Linked DNA regions of Homo sapiens. The protein of the gene in region 1 purifies or fractionates together with the protein of each later gene. This does not show direct contact. Each region holds a gene or a part of one and is shown on either strand. Other genes may lie near its edges. The genes, in order: UBE4B and UBL7.

Region 1 (10,096 bases):
TTTACAACATTTCTATTTAATGTTATTAGCCTTGAATCCCAACCAACTCCCTAAATGTGTTGATCAGTGCTTGCATTGTGAAATTTGAAGATGAGCTAGGCTGAGTAAATCTTACATGGTGTTACCTGGTATTAATCATAAATGTATAAAAGCAGATTTGAGTTCCTTTAAGTGCCAATAGCAGGTTAATGTATTAATTACACTATATGTGGAGGTAAGGCTTTCTAACTAAAGCTTTCTTTGTAAATTTCAACATTTACCAACTAGCTCTTTGCTCTAATTTAAGTTTAATGTAGTAATAATGTTGATTGTTGGCCTGTTTATCTTGTTTTCCTCAAAATAAATGGGGAAAAGCTTTTAAAAAATATTGATAGAGGGCCAAGCGCGGTAGCTCATGCCTGTGATCCCAGCACTTTGGGAGGCTGAGGCGGGTGGATCACGAGGTCAGGAGTTCGAAACCAGCGTGGCCAACAAAGTGAAACCCCGTCTCTACTAAAAATACAAAAATTAGCCAGGTGTGGTGGCACATGCCTGTAATCCCAGCTGGCTCGGGAGGCTGAGGCAGGAGAATCACTTGAACCCCAGAGGCACAGGTTGCAGTGAGCCAAGACTGTGCCATTGCACTCCAGTCTGGGTGACAGAGCGAGACTCCGTCTCAATATAGATAGATAGATAGATAGATAGATAGATAGATAGATAGATAGATAGATAGAAAGGAGGAAATATTGGAACATTTAATTGAATTTTTTAACAGGTTATAGATGCTTGGTAATCAAGAACATATTAGTTGCTGAGATGTGCAGAATTTAATTGAGTAGAGCAACGACTCCTGGAGAGTTCTTCAACAGGCTCCAAATGTATGGGTTTTGTTGAATTACTGGGTTTTGTTGAATTACTGGGGGTCCTGTCAGAGTATTAGAGTTCACCAAACTCCTCTTACTTCTGGAGAATTCAGCTGTATTACTTTATGGTTAGACTTGTCAAAGAACAGGTCAACACTCTGGCTGAATTCTAGACTTTTATATGCAAAAAAGCTTTTCCCTGGGGAAGGAATGAAATTTGGACATTCAGTTCTAGCACCTTATTTGACATACTTCCCACTCTTAGATTCTCTTAAACTTATATTTCTGATTTTGTTTTTTTTCTTATAGATATTTATCCCCATTTTACAAGGCCTGGCTCTTGCTGCCAAAGAGTGCTCCCTCGACAGTGACTACTTTAAATACCCCCTCATGGTAAAACTTTGTTCTTTTTCTTTAACTCATTCAATAGATGTTTTTCTTTCAGATTATTTTGACATATACTTTTCTTTCAGGTCCATGAGATCAACCTTGTTTTCAAATTTAAAACATGAAATCACTGTGTTGGCCATGCAGAGTGTTTGGTGTGCAGTGAGATGCATCAGTGAAGACAGTTAGCAGCCTGGTACATCTTCCACCTATCCAAGTCCTAGACAGGAGTTAAATGCACTTATTACAATGTACTTTGTATAGCTTATGAAAAAGATAACTTATCTCCTAGCAATGAGCATACCATAGTTGGGATGAAATTTTGTTACTTAAAAAAAAAAAACCTATTAAAAATGCAAATAAAAAAGGCAAAGCTGTACATACTAAGAAAATGAATACAATTTTATCTTTATGTGTTTACTTTGTGCAGAAAATCTCAGTGTAGCTCTCTTGTTCACCCTCCCTGTTTCCTAAGGTCATATTTACTTGGGAAGTAGAAATCTGCTTAGCTCTTTAACGCACTTAGAGCAGGCATACATTGTGGACAGAAGCTTCAGCTAGATTCCCATGGGGAGGCTTGAATGTTGTGAAAATGCTGAAACTAGAATGAAAATTAGAAGCTCCTTTCTGTTCTGAATTCGCTTATTTGAAATTTTGGGAGAAAAGTATTTTGAAGTGTTACTGAATATTTTCGTTGCAGAAGTGTAAAGGAAAAAATATCAAAATGAAATTAGTTTATTCTATGTATAAATTAAGTCTTATGTAAATTGAGACCATGGTTGTTTTTCTTACTGTATTTATTTCTTTTACTTATTCCACTGATTGGATTCCATTATACCATGAATTCATTACTGACGATCTGTTCTGTGCTAGACACTGGTGATACAGAAGCTAGGAAGACAAGGTCCCTCTCCTCAAGGCACTCATAATCTACTGCAAAAATAAGAGCTACAGCGCAACAGTTGAACAGATACTGTGATAAATGTTAAAACAGAGCTGTACACAAAGGGTGTATTTATCTATTTAAAAAATTCAAACCTGTCATGGCACTAAAAGGCTACAAGAATGCTGGGAAATTAGAAGGTGAAACCAGAATTCCTACTTTAAAAAATAATTTTAAGTGGATTTATGCCAGAGCTCTTTCCATTGTACATGTTATTGGGGCTCCTGGTAAAATTATTTGAATCCTTATGTATTGTTCTCCCTGTGGCAGATAAAAGGAAGTGGAATAATCTGATTGTTTGAGTTCAGTGATGAAATATTTTAGTGAACACTAATTATCACCATATTATGTAGATGTTCCTTCATGGGACTGTTGGCTTTTGGGTTGTGGTGTGAATTAGCTTGATGTTTCAGTGAGGAGCTTTTAGCATCTGATATCACCAAAATGTCCTTTTGTTCAAAAGACAGAGGCCTCCATTGTGGTAGACAGTGATTTCATTTTGTGCCATTATTGATGCTTGCATAATAACGAGGACACAGTGAGTGAGAGGGTACAATAATGAGAGGCAGGAAGCGGAAGACTGTTGAAGCTAAAATCAGAAATCATTGTGATCATTCTCTAGGTCAGTGGATCCTGCTGTGCCATACGTTGGAATCACCTTGGAATCAGCTGGGGATCTTTAAAGGTGTTTCTGCCTGGCTCCCCACCCCAGACCTTGTGATTTAATTCACCAGGGGTGTGGCATGGCATTGGGGTTTCCAAAGGCTTCCCATGTGATCCTAATATGCAGCCACGTTTGTGAACTCCTGCACTAGGCAGTGAGAACGCTTCCTTCTGAGTTGAGGCTGCCTGAACCTCAAAGGCATCTCAACGTTGTGTCAATGCCTAAATGCACTCTTCGGCTCATGTAGCAACTTCTAGAGCTGCGTCCGAATCACAGAGGAAATTAACTGTTGAAAATAATGTTTGATTGAGTTACCATGGGCATGCTAAATTATGTTTATGTCCCTAAAAAGTGTTTTTCATCGTTCTCTAATGTTAGGATGGTTGGATGTCTGAAGGAAAGTGTTGGAATTCTTAAAAGTACTAGAAATCTTGAAACCAAGTTATGTTTTTAAATATGTTTTGAATTTGATAGCTTATTAAATTGTAATTATTTATAGTCATGTTTAACACTGGCAAGAGGAGCCATCTAAAGTTTATGAAATAAATCTTTTTGACATGGAAAGATATGAAGTGGAAAAACTTTTTTGTAAAAAACATATATAGATACAGTACACAAAAATATATCTGAAAACTGTTGCTCAAAATATCAATAGAGGTTATCTTTGAGGGTAAAGCTTGAGTAATTTTTAGTTTCATTTTATATTTCTGTTTTATTTCAAGTTTTCACATTGCATGTGTTTTAGTTTATTAATCAGAAAAAGTAGTGAAGCTGCTGCCATTTCAGAGGGAATGCATGTGTGCCATTTTAGAGGGAACGAATTTATAGCAGCAGTTAAAACTGTTTCTTTATGCTACAAATGACAGTCAGTTTAAGATGAAATGCATTTAAATGACTCTGATCTTATTTCTAGGCACTAGGTGAGCTCTGTGAAACCAAGTTTGGGAAGACACACCCTGTGTGCAATTTGGTAAGCACTCACCTGATGGGCTTGCACATTTTCAGTGAATATATCATAACCCAGAAGGCATTCCTCTAGTGAGATGGCCTGGAAAATGTCTCTTGAAGGACATTTAGGTGTAGGCGGAGGTAACGTGTCTGGGAGGCTCTCAACTGTTACATTTTTGTTAGACACGTTATATCCTGCATTACAGTTGTTCATTTCTATGATTTTTTTCCCTTTTTTTTCTAAGAATCTCACTCTGTCACCCAGGCTGGATGGAGTGCAGTGGTGGGATCTTGGCACACTGCAGCCTACGCCTCCTGGGTTCAAGTGAGTCTCGTGCCTCAGCCTCCCAAGTAGCTGGGAATACAGGCATGCATTACCATGCGAGGCTAATTTTTTTGTATTTTTAGTAGAGATGGAGTTTTACCATGTTGGCCAGGCTGGTCTCGAACTACTGACCTCAGGTGATCCACCCGCCTCAGCCTCCCAAAGTGTTGGGTTACAGGCGTGAGCCACCGCACCGGGCCTGTTTTTTTTCCCTTGACAAGTATTGTACAACTAAACTAACAAGAGGTATGGAAAAGTTATTCGAGTCCTTTGGTGGTATAAGAAGAGTTCATTTGAACTTCATCCAATAGTATCCTGAAACTTAAACATTCTTTTTTTTGAGACAGAGTCTCACTCTGTCACCCAGGCTGGAGCGCAGTGGCGCAATCTCAGCTCACTGCAACCTCTGCCTCCTGGGTTCAAGCGATTCTCTTGGCCTCAGCCTCCCCAGTAGCTGGGATTACAGGCGCACACCACCACGCCCGGCTAATTTTTGTATTTTTAGTAGAGACGGGGTTTCTCCATGTTGGCCAGGGTTGTCTCGGACTCCTGACCTCAGGTGACCCACCCCCACCCACACTGGCCTCCCAAAGTGCTGGGATTACAGGCGTGAGCCACCATGCCTGGCTGAAACATAAAAGTTTTAATAATATCTTGTGAAAATACAGAGGAGCTGGAGAGTTTTCATTACATTTTTACCCCACCGGCCTGTTCAGCGGCTTGACTGGCTCTTCCATCTTCTGCCTAGGTTGCTTCTTTGCGGTTGTGGTTGCCGAAATCCTTAAGTCCTGGCTGTGGGCGGGAGCTGCAGAGACTCTCTTACTTAGGGGCTTTCTTTAGCTTCTCAGTCTTTGCAGAAGATGATGTAAGTATAGTGGCTACTTGTACTTTGCTGCCCTTTTATTCAGATTCTTTCCCAAATGTGCATTATATGTTGACTGCATTTTTTCCTTCTCTTTCCAGGTTAAAGTGGTTGAAAAATACTTCTCAGGGCCTGCCATTACCCTGGAAAACACTCGTGTGGTTAGCCAATCATTGCAGCATTACTTAGAGCTCGGAAGGGTAAGTGTTCAGAAAACAAATCCAGAGGAAGTATCAAAGATGAGCTCCAGATACAGAGCTTTTATTTTGTAGACTGGACTATGCCCAGTAGACAAACGGCTAACAAAAGCCAATTCGATCTTACATAAAAAAGATAAACTATAAGTAAGTAGCCTGTGTCTTGAATAACAGGTTGTAACAACAGCAGTATGCTGCCTTTGTATGTAGCATCACTGGGAACTGGTCCTAAGCTTAGTGGCCCGGCTCCTCCTCCAGCTGGCCCTTAGGCATTTACACTGTGAGGGTGAGCAAGGATTGTTAGTTTGCACACACCCTCACTGACTTGCTTATCCCAAATGCAGATTAATATGTCTTCAATTCTCAAACTTAAAGGCAGAGAAGGGCCGGGTGTGATGGCTCATGCCTGTAATCCCAACACTTTGGGAGGCCGAGTGGGGTGGATCACCTGAGGTCAGGAGTTTGAGAACAGCCTGGCCAACATGACGAAACCCCGTCTCTACTAAAAATACAAAAATTAGCCAGGCATGGCAGCGCGTGCCTGTAATCCCAGCTACCTAGCTACTCGGGAGGCTGAGGCACAAGGATCACTTGAACCCAGGAGGTGGAGGTTGCAGTGAGCCAAGATCACGCCACTGCACATCAGCCTGGGCGACAGAGCAAGACTCCATCTCAAAAAAAAGAAACAGGCAAAGAAGTTACAGGCTTGGGTAACTAAGGTAATTTTGATCATGGGAAAGAAGTAACAAAGCCTATTTTATTAAAACTGTAACTGCCGGCTGGGCGTGTTGGCTAATGCCTGTAATCCCAACACTTTGGGAGGCTGAGATGGGCTGATCACGAGGTCAGGAAGTCATCCTGGCCAACATGGTGAAACCTCGTCACTGCTAAAAATACAAAAATTGGCCAAGGCAGGTGGATCACGAGGTCAGCAGTTTGAGACCAGCCTGACCAACATGGTGAAACCCCATCTCTACTAAAATACAAAAAAAATTAGCTGGGCATGGTGGCGGGTGCCTGTAATCCCAGCGACTTGGGAGGCTGAGGCAGGAGAATCGCTTGAAACCGGGAGGCGGAGGTTGCACTGAGCCGAGATGTGCCACTGCACTTTAGCCTGGGCAATAAGAGCAAAACTCCGTCTCAAAAAAAAAAACAACAAAAATGCAAAAACTAGCTGGGTGTGGCGGCGTGTGCCTGTAATCCCAACTACTCGGGAGGCTGAGGCAGGAGAATGGCTTGAACCTGGGAGGCGCAGGTTGCAGTGAGCTGAGATTGCACCACTGCACTCCAGCCTGGCAACAGAGCTAGACTCTGTCTCAAAAAAAAACAAAAAACTGTAACTGCCTACCTCCCCCACTCCATATTCTGCTTTCATGCTCATTACTTTGACATAGTTGGATGTGGATATTTCTTATATTCTTTCACTCAGGCTCTTCTAAAATGAGTAGAAGTGGGAGAGGAGAGAACGTGGGAAGTAGGCTAGCTGTTCGTGAAGTCAAAAAGGAATCATGTGCAAAATAGTTTTAATTTGTTTCTTCTTTTTAAAAATAAATTTCAGCAAGAGCTTTTTAAGATTCTGCATAGTATTTTGTTAAATGGCGAAACCCGTGAGGCTGCTCTCAGTTACATGGCGGCTGTCGTCAATGCCAATATGAAGAAAGCACAGATGCAGGTAGGATTCCTACAGACTGCTTTTCGCTGTTTGTCAAATTCATTCATCTGACCCAGATTTAGTCAGCACCTACCAGGCACTGTTCTAGGAGTGGGGGTACAGTATTGAACAAGGTAGACGAGCTTCCTGCTTTTGTGGAGCCCATGTTCCACAGAATAAACAAGTAGACATATAAATACATGATTTTAGACAGTTGTATAATCAGTGAAGAAAATAGAGCAAAGTAAATGACATGAGAAGAACTGTAGGTACCAGAAGGAAGATCTGAAGGTGATTTTTGATTGGGTGGCAGGAAAGGCCTCCCTGAGGAGGTGACATTTGTTTCATAGGAAGGAGCCAGCCATTGTAGTGGCTGAGAAAAGAGCTATCCAATGTGGAAACGAAGCAGCTTTGGTACAAGCCCAGCACGCAGGCTTTTGTGGCTGGAGAAGAGTGAACAGGAGGGAATGTCGGGTCCTGGAGTTAGTGGATAGGCAGGGCGCCATCGGGTTAGGTTTACGTGATCAGAACTGTCATGGGAGGGTTTTCAGCAGGGAAACCACAAAAGCTGCTATGTAGACGGACCAAAACAGAAGGGGGCAGCCAGGAACAGACCCAAGGGGGCAGCCAGGAACAGACCCAAGAAGGCAGCTGCAAGGGCGTGAGTGCTTCGGTCCGGGTGAGACAGGCCAGTGGCTGCAGCTGCTTTGCCAGAGGAGAAAAGGGCATCCTTCCTTGACTAGTAATAAATAATGAATGAATGATGTGATGTGTATACTCAGAAGCAAAAATCATGTAGAGAGAAGAGCACAGATCTTGTGATTTCTGATCGTGGTTCCACCGTTTACTAACTGCGGGACCTTAGACAGTGACTCCTCTGTGCCTCCATTTCCTCATCTGCTAAGCTGCGGTACTACTGGTACTGGGTTTATTATATATAAAGCTGTTAGAGTGGTGCCTGGTACACAGTGATCACTCAACCAATATTAACTATCATTCTTATCATTGTTGTATTATTATTTTTTTCTTAACAGAGGTAATCAAGTTACATTGTTATATTGCTAATGCAGGAGCATGCTGATGCTGTCACCTAGAGAAACAATGTCACATGATAAGAAGTGGAGCAACTTGTTTTGATGCTCTTGAGGGAAATAAAGAGGAGAAAGAGGCCGGGCATGGTGGCTCACGCCTGTAATCTCAGCACTTTGGGAGGCCGAGGTGGGAGGATCACTTGAGCCCAGGCATTTGAGACCAGCCCTGGCGACATAATGAGACCCCATCTCTACAAAATATACAAAAGTCATCTGGGCATGGTGGCTGGTGCATGCCTATAGTTTCAGCTACTTGGGAGGCTGAGGCAAGAGGATCACTTGAGCCAGGGAGGTCGAGACCAGCCTGGGCAACATAGGGAGACCCTGTCTCTACAAAAAAAATAAAAAATTAGCCAGTATAGTGGCATAGACCTGTAGACCCAGTTATTCAGGAGGCTGAAGTGGGAGGATCACTTAAGCCCGGGAGGTTGAGGCTGCAGTGAGCTATGTTTGCACCACTGCACTACAGCCTGGGCAACAGAGTAAAACCCTGTCTCAAAAAAAAAAAAGAAAGAAAGAAAGAAACATTTATTGTGTTTCTACTTACTAATTTTGAGCCTCAGGCAAATCACTTCAGGGTCTCTGAGTCTTTATTTCCTCCTGCATAAAATGTTAACAGCAGTATTACTGACCTGTAAGAATTATCGTGATGGTTCAGTAAAAGAATGTATAAAATGGCCAAGCGTGGTGGCTCATGCCTGTAATCCCAGCAATTTGGGAGGCCGAGACGGGCGTATCACCTGAGGTCAGGAGTTCGAGACCAGCCTGGCCAATATGGTGAAACCCCATCTCTACTAAAAATACAAAAAATTTGCCGGGCGTGGTGGCGGGTGCCTGTAATCCCAGCTACTCGGGAGGCTGAGGCAAGAGAATCACTTGAACCCGGGAGGCGGAGGTTGTAGTGAGCGAGGATCGTGCCACTGCATTCTAGCCTGGGCAACAAGAGTGGAACTCCATCTCAAAAAAAAGAAAAGAAAAGAAAAGAATGTATAAAATGCCTCTTATATAAATAATAATTATATAATAGGCGGTATTCAACAAGTAGCACCTGCTAATATAGAATTAATGGAATGACAGTGGTGATGAGATATATGTCTTCTCATTGACTTTAGGATACAGTTATGTTTGAAAGTTCAGTCTGCTTTCTTACAAAGTTTGCCAAAATTTCTATTCATGTTATTTTAAATACTTTTTCTTGGCTGGTCACAGTGGCTCACACCTGTAATCCCAGCACTTTGGGAAGCTGAGGTGGGCGGATCACTTTAGGTCCCAGCTACTTGGGAGGCTAAGGTGGGAGGATTGCTTGAGCCTGGGAGGTGGAGGTTGCAGCCAAGATCACACCCCTTCGCTCCAGCCTGGGCAACAGAGTGAGACCCCATCTCAAAAAAAATTTTTTTTAATGTTTAAAAATACTTTTTCTTTTCAACTTTCACAGACAGATGATAGATTGGTGTCTACAGATGGATTTATGCTGAATTTCCTTTGGGTACTGCAGCAGCTAAGTACAAAAATCAAGTTAGAAACAGTTGATCCCACGTATATTTTTCACCCAAGATGTCGGATTACTCTTCCCAATGATGAGACGCGTGTGAATGCAACGATGGAAGATGTGAATGACTGGCTGACTGAACTCTGTGAGTACTGTGTTCGTGACTCGGTCATTAAAACACTGCCCTCTTGTCTGTGTGCTAGTAGTTCCTCACAGATTGTTACCACCTCACCATAAAATGAACTTAAGAGATAGAGAAACATAATAAAAATTAATACAGTAGGCCTGGCGTGGTGACTCATACCTATAATCCCAGCACTTTGGGAGGCCGAGGCAGGTGGATCACGAGGTCAGGAGTTCAAGACCAGCCTGACCACCGTGGTGAAACCCCGTCTCTACTAAAAATACAAAAATTAGCTGGGCATGGTGGCACACGCCTGTAATCCCAGCACTTTGGGAGGCTGAGGTGGGCAGATCAAAAGGTCCGGAGTTCATGACCAGCCTGATCACCATGGTGAAACCCCATCTCTACTAAAAATACAAAAATTAGCGGGTGTGGTGGCACGCACCTGTAATCCCAGCTACTCAGGAGGCTGAGGCAGGAGAATTGTGTGAACCCAGGAGGCTGAGCTTGCAGTGAGCCATGATCACGGCACTGCACTCCAGCCTGGGCAACAGAGTGAGACTCTGTCTCAAA
Region 2 (10,743 bases), on another chromosome or scaffold:
AATCCCAGCACTTTGGGAGGCTGAGACAGGTGGATCACCTGAGGTCAGGAGTTTGAGACCAGCCTGGCCAACATGGTGAAACCTCATCTCTACTAACAAATATAAAAATTAGCCGGGCACTGTGGCAGGCACCTATAATCCCACCTACTTGGGAGGCTGAGGCAGGAGAATTGCTTGAACCCGGGAGGTGGAGGTTGTGGTGAGCAGAGATCACGCAACTGCACTTCAGCCTGGGCGACAGAGCGAAATTCTGTCTCAAAAAATAAAAAATAAAAAATAAATACAAAATGAAGACTAAAGCAAAAGGAACACAGAAGAAATAAATACAACAGATGATGCCTTAAGTAGAATGTAGAAAGGAGGAACATTTAAAAAATATTTTTAAAAATGAAGAAAGAGAAAAGATTTGAGAAAAGTGGCAGATATTGAAGAGAAACAACAAAGATACAACATATGGCTAACATGAGTCCTCTTAAGAACCAAACCAAGGCAAGAGAACGGAACTATTCTAAAACCTGTAATTCAAAAATCAATCTTTACTGAAATAAAAAAAATATAAATTACATTTTGGAAGAGAATACCACATAACTGAGACTACTGACCTAAAACAAACAGCACCAAGATGTAGTCAGGTAAAATGACTGGAAATTAAACAAAAAATTTTAAAAACTACTTGGGCAACCTGGTGAAAAGAGCAAGTAACTTGTAAGGGAAAGAAAATTAGATTTCTGTCATCAGATGAAAATGAAATATCTTAAGAAAGAAAATGTGAGCCAACAATTTTATATTTAGCAAACTGATTTTCAAGCATAAAGGCCAGAAATAAACTGCTATTAATATGCAAAAGTTTAGGGAATATCATTCACAGAGAATATTGTAGTCCTTCCAGGAAATCCACTAAAGAACGGGTTCAGTAATAAAAACCACTGGGCCAGGCACAGTGGCTCATGCTTGTAATCCCAACATTTTGGGAGGCCAAGGCGGGTGAATCACTTGAGGCCAGGAGTTTGAGACCAGCCTAGCCAACACGGTGAAACTCTGTCTCTATTAAAAATACAAAAATTAGCCGGGCATTGTGCTACATACCTGTAATCCCAGCTGCTTGGGAGGCTGAGGCAGGAGAATCGCTTGAACCTGGGGTGGAGATGCAGTGAGCCAAGATTGCACCAATGTACTTCAGCCTGGGTGATACAGTGAGACTCTGTGTCAGAAAACAAAACAAAACAACAACAACAACAGCAACAAAAACCAGTGGAAAGCATTAAACATGGAATTCTGATTTTATTTATTTATTTATTTTTGAGATGGAGTTTCACTCTTGTCGCCCAGGCTGGAGTGCAATGGTGTGATCTCGGCTCACTGCAACCTCCACTTCCTGGGTTCAAGCAATTCTCCTGCCTCAAGCTCCCAAGTAGCTGAGATTACAGTGCCCGCCAGCACACCCCCACTAATTTTTGTATTTTTAGTAGAGAAGGGTTTCACTATGTTGGCCAGGCTGGTCTCAAACTCCTGACCTCAGGTGATCTGCCTGTCTCAGCCTCCCAAAGTGCTGGGATTACAGGTGTGCGCTGCCGCACCTGGCCTAAACATGGAATTCTTTGTAGTATTAAGAGAGTTAAAAAGAGGAAGGTAGAGTAATGAGTATAGGCTCAGATAATATACAGCACATCTGTTAAAATGGAGAGAATGAATGGAGGGGATAGAATGAGAAGGGCATATGCAAACATTTTTTTAAACGTCTCAATAATTATATTGGTGGTGATAGTATCATTAGTATTGTTATTTTGAGACAGTTGGGTATGTGATATGGGATAAAGGAAATGAAAATAGATATTTAAATACTGTTGTCCCTTATGTTCTTGAGAACTAGTATTCTCAGTGTGGAAGAAAGGAAATAAAGATGTAATATAGAAAATATTAAATTAAAATTCTGCAGTCTTACTTTGGGAGGCTGAGGTGGGCAGATTGCTTGAGTCCAGTAATTCAAGACCGGCCTGGGCAACATGGTGAAACCCTGCCTCCACAGAAAATACACAAATTAGCTGGGCATGGTGGTGCACAACTGTAGTCCCAGCTACTTGGCAGGCTGAGGTGGGAGAATCGCTTGAGCCTGGGAGTTTGAGGCAGCAGTGAGTCATGATTGCACCTCTGTACTCCAGCCTGGGCAACAGAGGGAGATCCTGTCTCAAAAAAAACAAAACAAAAAGCAACCCATAAAACCAAAAGCCAAAACCAAACCCAACCTCTGTAGTCTTGAATTTGAAGTAGCAGTATAAATATTCTCTATTTATATCTCTATGGATATAGATCTCCCCCTAGCTCCATCCACTAATGTGGCTTACAAGTAACAAACAATTCAGTAGCAATAAGCATCCCTAGTGCCCAGATTGTGGTCTTAATATACCATTTCCCACAGAAAACCATATGAATTTCTTGAAGAAATGGCTAATTTTTATGCCTAGGGCAGGAAGTACAAGATTAGCTAGGAACTCTTGTCATGCTAGATAGCAGGGAGCTATCAAAAACCTCCAGGGTTATGTCAAAAGGACTCAAGAATCAAGTTGAAGAGGAGGCTCCATTGTTATGGTACTGTATTAGTCTGTTCTTGCACTGCTATAAAGAACTACCTGAGACCAGGTGATTTATAAAGAAAAGTGCTTTAATTGACGCACAGTTCTGCAGGCTATACAGGAAGCATGGCTGGGGAAGCCACAGGAAACATACAATCATGGCAGAACGTGAAGGGGAAGCAAGCACATCTTCACATGGCAGAGCAGGAGAGAGAGGGCAAAGGGGGAAGTGCTACACACTTTTGAACAACCAGATCTCTTGAGAACTCACTGTCATGAGAACAGCAAGGGGGAAGTCTGCCCCATGATCCAAACATCATGACCTCCCACCAGGCCCCTCCTCCAACATTGAGGATTACAATTCAACATGAGATTTGGGTGGGGACACAGAGCCAAACCATATCAGGTACCATGAATGTCAACATGAGAAAATACAAGTATATTGTGGAAAATGAGAATCAAGTTTCCTACTATTGCAGAAGGGAGGTAAAATTATAGAGAAGAGGAAGACTAGAGGAAAATATGTGGTATTGGATTGGAATTTGAGGTATTGGTGTGAACTCATATTTTATATATACATATATATTTTGATATATGTGCACATATATATGCTCACATATACATAGATCTATATATACATATACACATCTATATGCACACATATTTAAATATATTTCATAGAAATATAGATGAATGGGTGTGTATATCAATATTCATTTATTTGCTAGGTCTAGTCACTGAAATAGACTGGAAATAATGACATCTCAGTAGCAATAAACACACCTAGCATCCAAACTTGGCTTCTAAATACCATTCCTTACTAAAAGGAACTAAGGCTCTTTGGAGAAATGAATGATGTGACAGATGTGAAAATCTATGACATAACTTATGAAAATGGCAGAGAGATGATCAGCCTCCACCCAACTGGAATGGTTGATGAAAGCTGAATGAGATTGTAAGTTACATGGTATTATTGTATTTATTAATTTCTTGATTTTGCTGGGTTGTACTGTGGCTGTGACATAGAATATATCCTTGTTTTCAGGAAATACAGAAATACTTTGGGTAATGTCTGTAATTGGCTCTTAAACGGATCGGGTGGAAAAACAAAAGAACAATATGCATAGTGAGAGAGTGAGAGAGAAAGAATGATGAGGTAAATGTAAACTATTAACAACTGGGGACTTTGGGTTAAGGGTATGAGGGCATTATTTTGTAATATTTTTGCAACTGTACTGTAAACTTGAAATTATTTCAAAGTAAAAAGTCTCAAGAATATTTGAGCACAGGGGAAATATTCAAGCTAGGTAAAATATGTAGATTACTAAACAAATGTACAGTGTAATCTAAATTTTGTTGAATATACATATTTAAGATTCAGTAAAATTATACTTTTAGAAGCATAAAACAAAGTTAACAATTGTCATCTATTGGTGATAGAATAGCCATGCCCCTCTTAAAGCCAAAAGGCTAGCAGATATCAAGACCTACTCTAAAGTTAGAGAAATCAAGACGTGTGACATTGGCACAATGACAGAAAAATACACCCATGGCACAGAATAAGAGTCAAAAATTGACCCAGACATACATAGTCACCGGATTTATGACAAAGCTGCCACTGAAATTCAGTGGGAACAAAATTTTTAAATAGTGCTGGATCAATTGTACACCCATATGGAAGAGATGAATCTTGATGTCTAACTCCTATCATATACAAAGATTAATGTGAAATTAATCATAGACCTAAATGTGAAAGATAAAATAACACAGAAGAAAACCTAGGATAGTATCTTCATAACGAGGGCAGGCAAAGATTTCTTACATAGGACACAAAAGGCACTAACCATCACAACAAAATTTCAGGCCGGGCGTGGTGGCTACCGCTTGTAATCCCAGCACTTTGGGATCACCTGAGGTCAGGAGTTCGAGCAGCCTGGCCAACGTGGTGAAACCCCGTCTCTACTAAAAATACAAAAATTAGCCGGGCGTGGTGGCAGGTACCTGTAGCCCCAGCTCCTCAAGAGGCTGAGGCATGAGAATCTCTTGAACCCGGGAGGCGGAGGGTGCAGTGAGCCGAGATCGGCCACTACTGCACTCCAATCTGGGCGACAGAGCAAGACTCCGTCTCAAAAAAAAAAAAAAGTTTTAAAATGAAATTAAATTATCTAATACCATTAAGAGTAAAAAAAAAATCATGAACTGGGAAAGTATTCACAATATATAATTTTGATAAATTATGGAGCTCAGGTGCAAGTAACTTAGTAGGCAGGAGAGGAAGGAGTCTAAAGAAGTCTAGTTAGGAAGGATTACTGAAAGAGGGGGTATATCTAAAAATGGGTAGGATGGGAAAGGGAGACTTTGGGAACAGCCATGGGTTCCTAATGCGCCCACAACATACATGGGAGTTATCCTGAAGATAAACTCCCTGAAGACAGTGAAAGCCATTTCAAAACTCCCCATATAACTTATGAGAACAGAGGGGTGATCTGCCTTTAATGTTAGGCCTTCTGAGATCCTGCGATCTGTTCGCTCTCCTCAGTAACATTACCCTGCTCAATTGCTGCCTTAATCCCAGGTCGCACATTGGAATGTGGGAATTCAGCGTTTACATTTACCCACACAGGATCAGCCTTCAGCTGCTACGATCAACTTCAGTATTTTCATATAATCACTTTTTTCTTTCCTTAGTTCTTGAATTATTAATTCCTTGAGAAGAGTCCAATCAGAGGTAGTCTTTCTTCAGTATTTTCGGTAATCCTAATTTCTGTGCAAAAAAATTTCTGTTCCATTTTAACCGTGCAGAACTTTCTGTTATCTAAAACACAGTTTCTCTATGAGAGTTCAGTGAAAATTCCCCTTCCCAAACTGATTCTATGAATGACTGTTAGATAAGCTTCACCACTGCATGTAGAGGGTGTACCAGGAACCCAAGTTAGTAGCTCTCCTCAAAGACCCAACTTTTGGAGGGGGTCATCGTCTGGTTCCTGGTATGCCTCCACAGGTAGGTCCGCCTCAGGAAGTCAGCGGCGAGGAGCACAGAAGAGGCTGCCTTCACCAACGGACAGCAGTTTTCATCGTGAGGGCCGTCGGCAACCGCTTGGATGTGTCTAAAGGGGCCGTTTGGGAACCGGCCCTTCTGGAGGGAAGGGTCGGAGTGGGAGGGGATCCGGGATCCGCCTTACGGCCGAGTGTCCAGCAGCGCGTTCCAACCTGGCAGAACCGACGTACTTCATATGCTCCTCAGGGGAGCGCGGGAATCACCAGGCTGAAGAATGACTGGAAATGGGACCCTCTCCAACCAAAGCACCCAGACATTCCGGCGCCGGACATTTCAAAGAGCGCGGAAGCCACGCCTTCCCCCAGAACCGGAAGCTTTGCAACTAGCGCCTCTTGTAGACTGGCTGTTTATAAGGGGGCGGGGGGCCACAGCGGGAACTGCAACTCCCAGAATGCAGCGCGGAATTTCCGGTTTCCGGCGAGAGGGCCAGAGTGAGTGTTTACACCGGCGGCAGTGCGGCCGGGTTCCTTCCGCGGGACGGGTGAGGGCGCTGGGGCCCTGGGCAGCGCGGGCTCGATGTGTGTCAGCCAAGTAGCTGGTCCCACTGGAGCGGTGAGGTCGCCACCGGATAGTGTTCCTGCCCCATTACTAGCGATCTGTGACCTTGGGCCAGTGATTTTACTGAGTCTTGCTTCCCTCATCTTTAAAATGTGGCTAATGCCTGCCTTAGGGAACCGTTGTGAGGATTAAGTGAGACATGGTATATAAAACGACCTCCTTCTGGCATAAACTTGAGGTGGAAGATACCTTGAGGATGCTTGAAGGTCTGCTAGGCAGCTTCACAGCCTTTTCTTTCCTCTTCTCTATCAGAGGTCTCTTTGGAAGCAATAATGATGACTATAACAAGAACTTATCTTGCTTTGCAAGATTCTTCCGCCGTCAGAGTTTCTGATTTATTTTCTGGGGTTCCATGTATGCCAGGTATGGGGACAAGGATGAAGAAAACTTTAGTCTTTTGTTTTCAAGGGCATTCAAGAATTGGGGTGGAGGAGGGGGCAAGCAGATATTTGTAGCCCTTTTGTTCTGAGGGGATGTGGGAACAACAGAGGAAAGAGAGGGGACTGAGGTTATTGAATCTGTGTTGGTTTCGGTAGGAGTTTGCTAAAAGGCCAAAAAGGGAAGAGAAATTACATGCAGAGTTAGATGAGCAGAGGTGTAAAATAGGGGAGAGCTTTGTTATGAGTGTGTACTTACATGTTGTGGAGGTCCTTTGCAGGGGTAGGGCTCTGTTGGGGAATGAGGCTGGCAGGGAGTTTTGTAAGCCAGGCGATGAAGTTTAGACTTAATTTATATAGATGGTTTAGAGGTATTGGAAGAGGTCTTTTTCTGGGGGGCCGGGGTGGGGCAGGGAGGGACGGAGTCTCTGTCGCCCAAGCTGGAGTGCAGTGGCGCTATCTCGGCTCACTGCAACCTCCACCTCCCGGGTTCAAGCAATTCTCCTGCCTCAGCCTCTCAAGTAGCTGGGATTACAAGCGCCTGCCACCACGCCCTGCAAATTTTTTCTATTATAGTAGAGATGTAGTTTCACCATGTTGGCCAGGCTGGTTTCAAACACCTGATCTTAAGTGATCCGTCCTCCGCGGCCTCCCAAAGTGACAGGATTACAGGTGTGAGCCACCGCGTCTGGCTTTTTTTTTTTTTTTTTTTTTTTTTTTTGCGACAGAGTCTCTCTCTGTCACCCAGGCTGGAGTGCAGTGACGTGATCTTGGCTCACTGCAACCTCAGCCTTCCGAGTAGGTGGCACTACAGGTGCGCACTACCACGCCCAGCTAATTTTTGTATTTTTAGTAGTGACGGGTTTCACCATGTTGGCCAGGCTGGTCTTGAACTCTTGAGCTTAGGCAATCCGCCCGCCTAGGCCTCTCAAAGTGCTAGGGTTACAGGCATGAGCCACCGCGCCCAGCCCGACATTGGAAGAGTTCTAAGCAGAGAAGTGACTTGGTCAGATCTGTGTTTTAGAATGATGGGTTGTGGCCAGGCGCAGTCGCTCATGCCTGTAATCCCAGCACTTTGGGAGGCCGAGGCAGGTGGATCACGAGGTCAGGAGATCGAGACCATCCTGGCTAACACAGTGAAACCCCGTCTCTACTAAAAGTACAAAAAAAAAAAAAAATTAGCCTGGCGTCGTGGCGGGTGCCTGTAGTCCCTGCTACCTGGGAGGCTGAGGCAGGAAGGCAGGAGAATGGCGTGAACCTGGGAGGTGGAGCTTGCAGTGAGCCGAGATCGCGCCGCTGCACTCCAGCCTGGGCAACAGAGCGAGACTCCGTCTCAAAAAAAAAAAAAAAAATGATGGGTGTTGTTAGGTGGCAGCATAGATATTTGATAGGGAGAGGCAAGAGGCAGGGAACTTGTTATAAAGCTGTTCTACTGGTTCAAGCAACAGTTGAAGAAAATTGGAAAAAGGGGCATACAGAAGGGAGAGGGTTAGATGATCTCTCTCACAACATTCCTATTAGATTGGATGGCGTTTTTATGTCCACGTTAGGGATGAAGAAACTGAGGCCTAGAGAGCTGTCCATCACAGTATGAGTAGAGAGAGAACCCCAGATTCTAGTTCTGGCCTCCTGATGGTACGCCCTATGCCTCTTCAACAGTGTCACATTGAATTGTCTTTCATTCAACCCTTTGGTGGGTGGGGGTGGAGTAGAGTGGTGGTCTGTCTTTTAACCACTGAGGTTTTGTTCTTTTACAGGGAGAAAGAGAGAGCGCGAAAGAGAGAGGATGTCTCTCTCAGACTGGCACCTGGCGGTGAAGCTGGCTGACCAGCCACTTACTCCAAAGTCTATTCTTCGGTTGCCAGAGACAGAACTGGGAGAATACTCGCTAGGGGGCTATAGTATTTCATTTCTGAAGCAGCTTATTGCTGGCAAACTCCAGGAGTCTGTTCCAGACCCTGAGCTGATTGGTGAGTCTCTCTGGACTGGGGTTGGGCTGCTGCTCTGATCTCTTTTGGGGGAGGATACTTCTGGAATTACAAGAGTAAAGTAAGGGCTTGGGATTTGTTGCCTCATAATGTTAACACTCCAGGGAAGTGAATGTTGGGTAAATAGAAACACAAATCATATAATGAAACTATTGGTTGCCATTTCAGCCATGTATTATACTGAACTACCTTATCACCAGGTTCTTTATGACATTGTCTTGTTTTTTGTTTTTGTTTTTGTTTTGCTGTGTAGCCCAGGCTGGAGTGCAGTGGTGCGATCTCGGCTCACTGCAACCTCTGTCTCCTGGGTCCCAGTTCAAGCAATTCTGCCTCAGCCTCCCGAGTAGCTGGGATTACAGGCACACACCACCATGCCCAGCTAATTTTTGTATTTTTAGTAGAGACATGGGATTTCACCATGTTGGCCAGGCTGGTCTTGAACTCCTAACCTTGTGATTCTGCCCGCCTCAGCCTCCCAAAATGCTGGGATTACAGGCATGAGCCACCGCTCCTGGCCAACATTGTGAATTCTTTTTCTGAAAGAACAGAAGTTTGGGATGAGTTAGGAAAGGAGAAGTTGGTCAGGGGAGGCTCCTCAGTATATTTGAGGTAGGTCTTCAGGGATGATTAGAAGGATTTTTGCTTGGTTGACTGAGTAAAGGAAAGGCAGTAAAAAAGAAAAAGTGGCGTGGGCAGTCCAGGTGGAGGAGGGAGGAATTTAAATATAATTAAATTACACTGAAAAGGTAATTTTTAATAGCTAAAGGATCCAACTGGCAAGAAAGATGTTTTCAGTCATACCTGGATTGGGTTCATCCTATTTTGTTGTTTTTCCATTGATTTAAATTGGGCAGCCTCCACAATGTTAAACTCCAGAGTTTTTCTGTGGATAGATTCTGTGTGAATCCTTTTTTTTTTTTTTTTTTTTTGAGACGGAGTCTTGCTCTGTTGCCCAGGCTGGAGTGCAGTGGCGAGATCTCAGCTCATTGTAACCTCTGTCTCCCAGGTTCAGGCAATTTTCCTGCCTCAGCCTCCTGAATAACTGGGATTACAGGCCCGCACAACCACAACTGGCTAATTTTTGTGTGTATGTGTGTATATATATATATATTTCTTTTTTTTTGAGACAGAGTCTTGCTCTGTTGCCCAGGCTGGAGTGCAGTGGTGTGATCTTGGCTCACTGCAACCTCCGCCTCCTGGGTTCAAGCAATTCTCCTGCTTCAGCCTCCTGAGTAGCAGGGATTACAGGCGTCTGCCACCATGCCTGGCTAATTTTTGTATTTTTGGTAGAGACGAGGTTTACCATCTTGGCCAGGCTGGCCTTGAACTCCTGACCTCAGGTGATCCACCCACCTCGGCCTCCCAAAGTGTTGGGATTACAGGTGTGAGCCACCGTGCCCGGCCCTAATTTTCGCCATGGCCCAGGTTTCGCCATGTCGGCCAGGCTCCAAAAGTGCTGGGTTTATAGGTGTGAGCCACCACATCTGGCCAGATTCGATGTAAGTCCATTTTATGAGTTTATATTTGCAAATAGTTGTTGAAATGTATTTAATTGGCTAGGCATGGTGGTTCACGCCTGTCATCCCAGCACTTTGTGAGGCTAAGGCAGGAGGATCCCTTGAGCCCAGGAGTTAAGAGACTAGTCTAGGCAACATGGCAAAACCCCGTCTCTACAAAAAACTACAAAAATTAGCTGGGTGTGGTGGCATGTGCCTGTAGTCCCAGCTACTCAGGAGGCTAAGGTGGGAGAATTGCTTGACCCCAGGAGGTTGAGGCTGCAGTGAACCGTGATGGTGCCATTGCACTCAAGCCTGGGCAACAGAGTAAGACCCTGTTTTCCAAAAAAAAAAAAGTATTTGTTAAGTTATTGAATAAGAGTATCTTTTAAAACATGTATCATTCTCCAGCTATCTAATCAAAATAAGGTTCTCGGGACAAAAACCATGTAAATTTGTTTTGAGGAGCAAAATATAAGTGGACAGTTCTTTTTTTAGATCTGATCTACTGTGGTCGGAAGCTAAAAGATGACCAGACACTTGACTTCTATGGCATTCAACCTGGGTCCACTGTCCATGTTCTGCGAAAGTCCTGGCCTGAACCTGATCAGAAACCGGGTGAGTGAGGGGCAGCCCTTAGGCAGGCAGAGTTTCTGTAATATCCGCAAGGGAAGGATCTGTGTGTTCTTGAGGCAC

The links.
Region 2: the proteins of UBE4B (region 1) and UBL7 purify together in Homo sapiens (affinity purification with mass spectrometry; 5 studies listed by BioGRID and IntAct, with this or other methods). This does not show direct contact.

Annotation. Positions count from the first base shown.
Region 1 is NC_000001.11:10,125,643-10,135,738, forward strand, and holds part of UBE4B (ubiquitin conjugation factor E4 B), read left to right. Parts: intron 1-1,151; coding exon 1,152-1,235; intron 1,236-3,749; coding exon 3,750-3,806; intron 3,807-4,857; coding exon 4,858-4,974; intron 4,975-5,072; coding exon 5,073-5,171; intron 5,172-6,726; coding exon 6,727-6,840; intron 6,841-9,345; coding exon 9,346-9,544; intron 9,545-10,096. UniProt on the Homo sapiens protein: Ubiquitin-protein ligase that probably functions as an E3 ligase in conjunction with specific E1 and E2 ligases. May also function as an E4 ligase mediating the assembly of polyubiquitin chains on substrates ubiquitinated by another E3 ubiquitin ligase.
Region 2 is NC_000015.10:74,456,474-74,467,216, reverse strand, and holds the start of UBL7 (ubiquitin-like protein 7), read left to right. Parts: upstream 1-6,056; 5' UTR 6,057-6,180; exon of another isoform or gene 6,181-6,458; coding exon of another isoform or gene 6,459-6,549; intron 6,550-8,113; exon of another isoform or gene 8,114-8,198; intron 8,199-8,320; coding exon of another isoform or gene 8,321-8,349; coding exon 8,350-8,533; intron 8,534-10,545; coding exon 10,546-10,665; intron 10,666-10,743.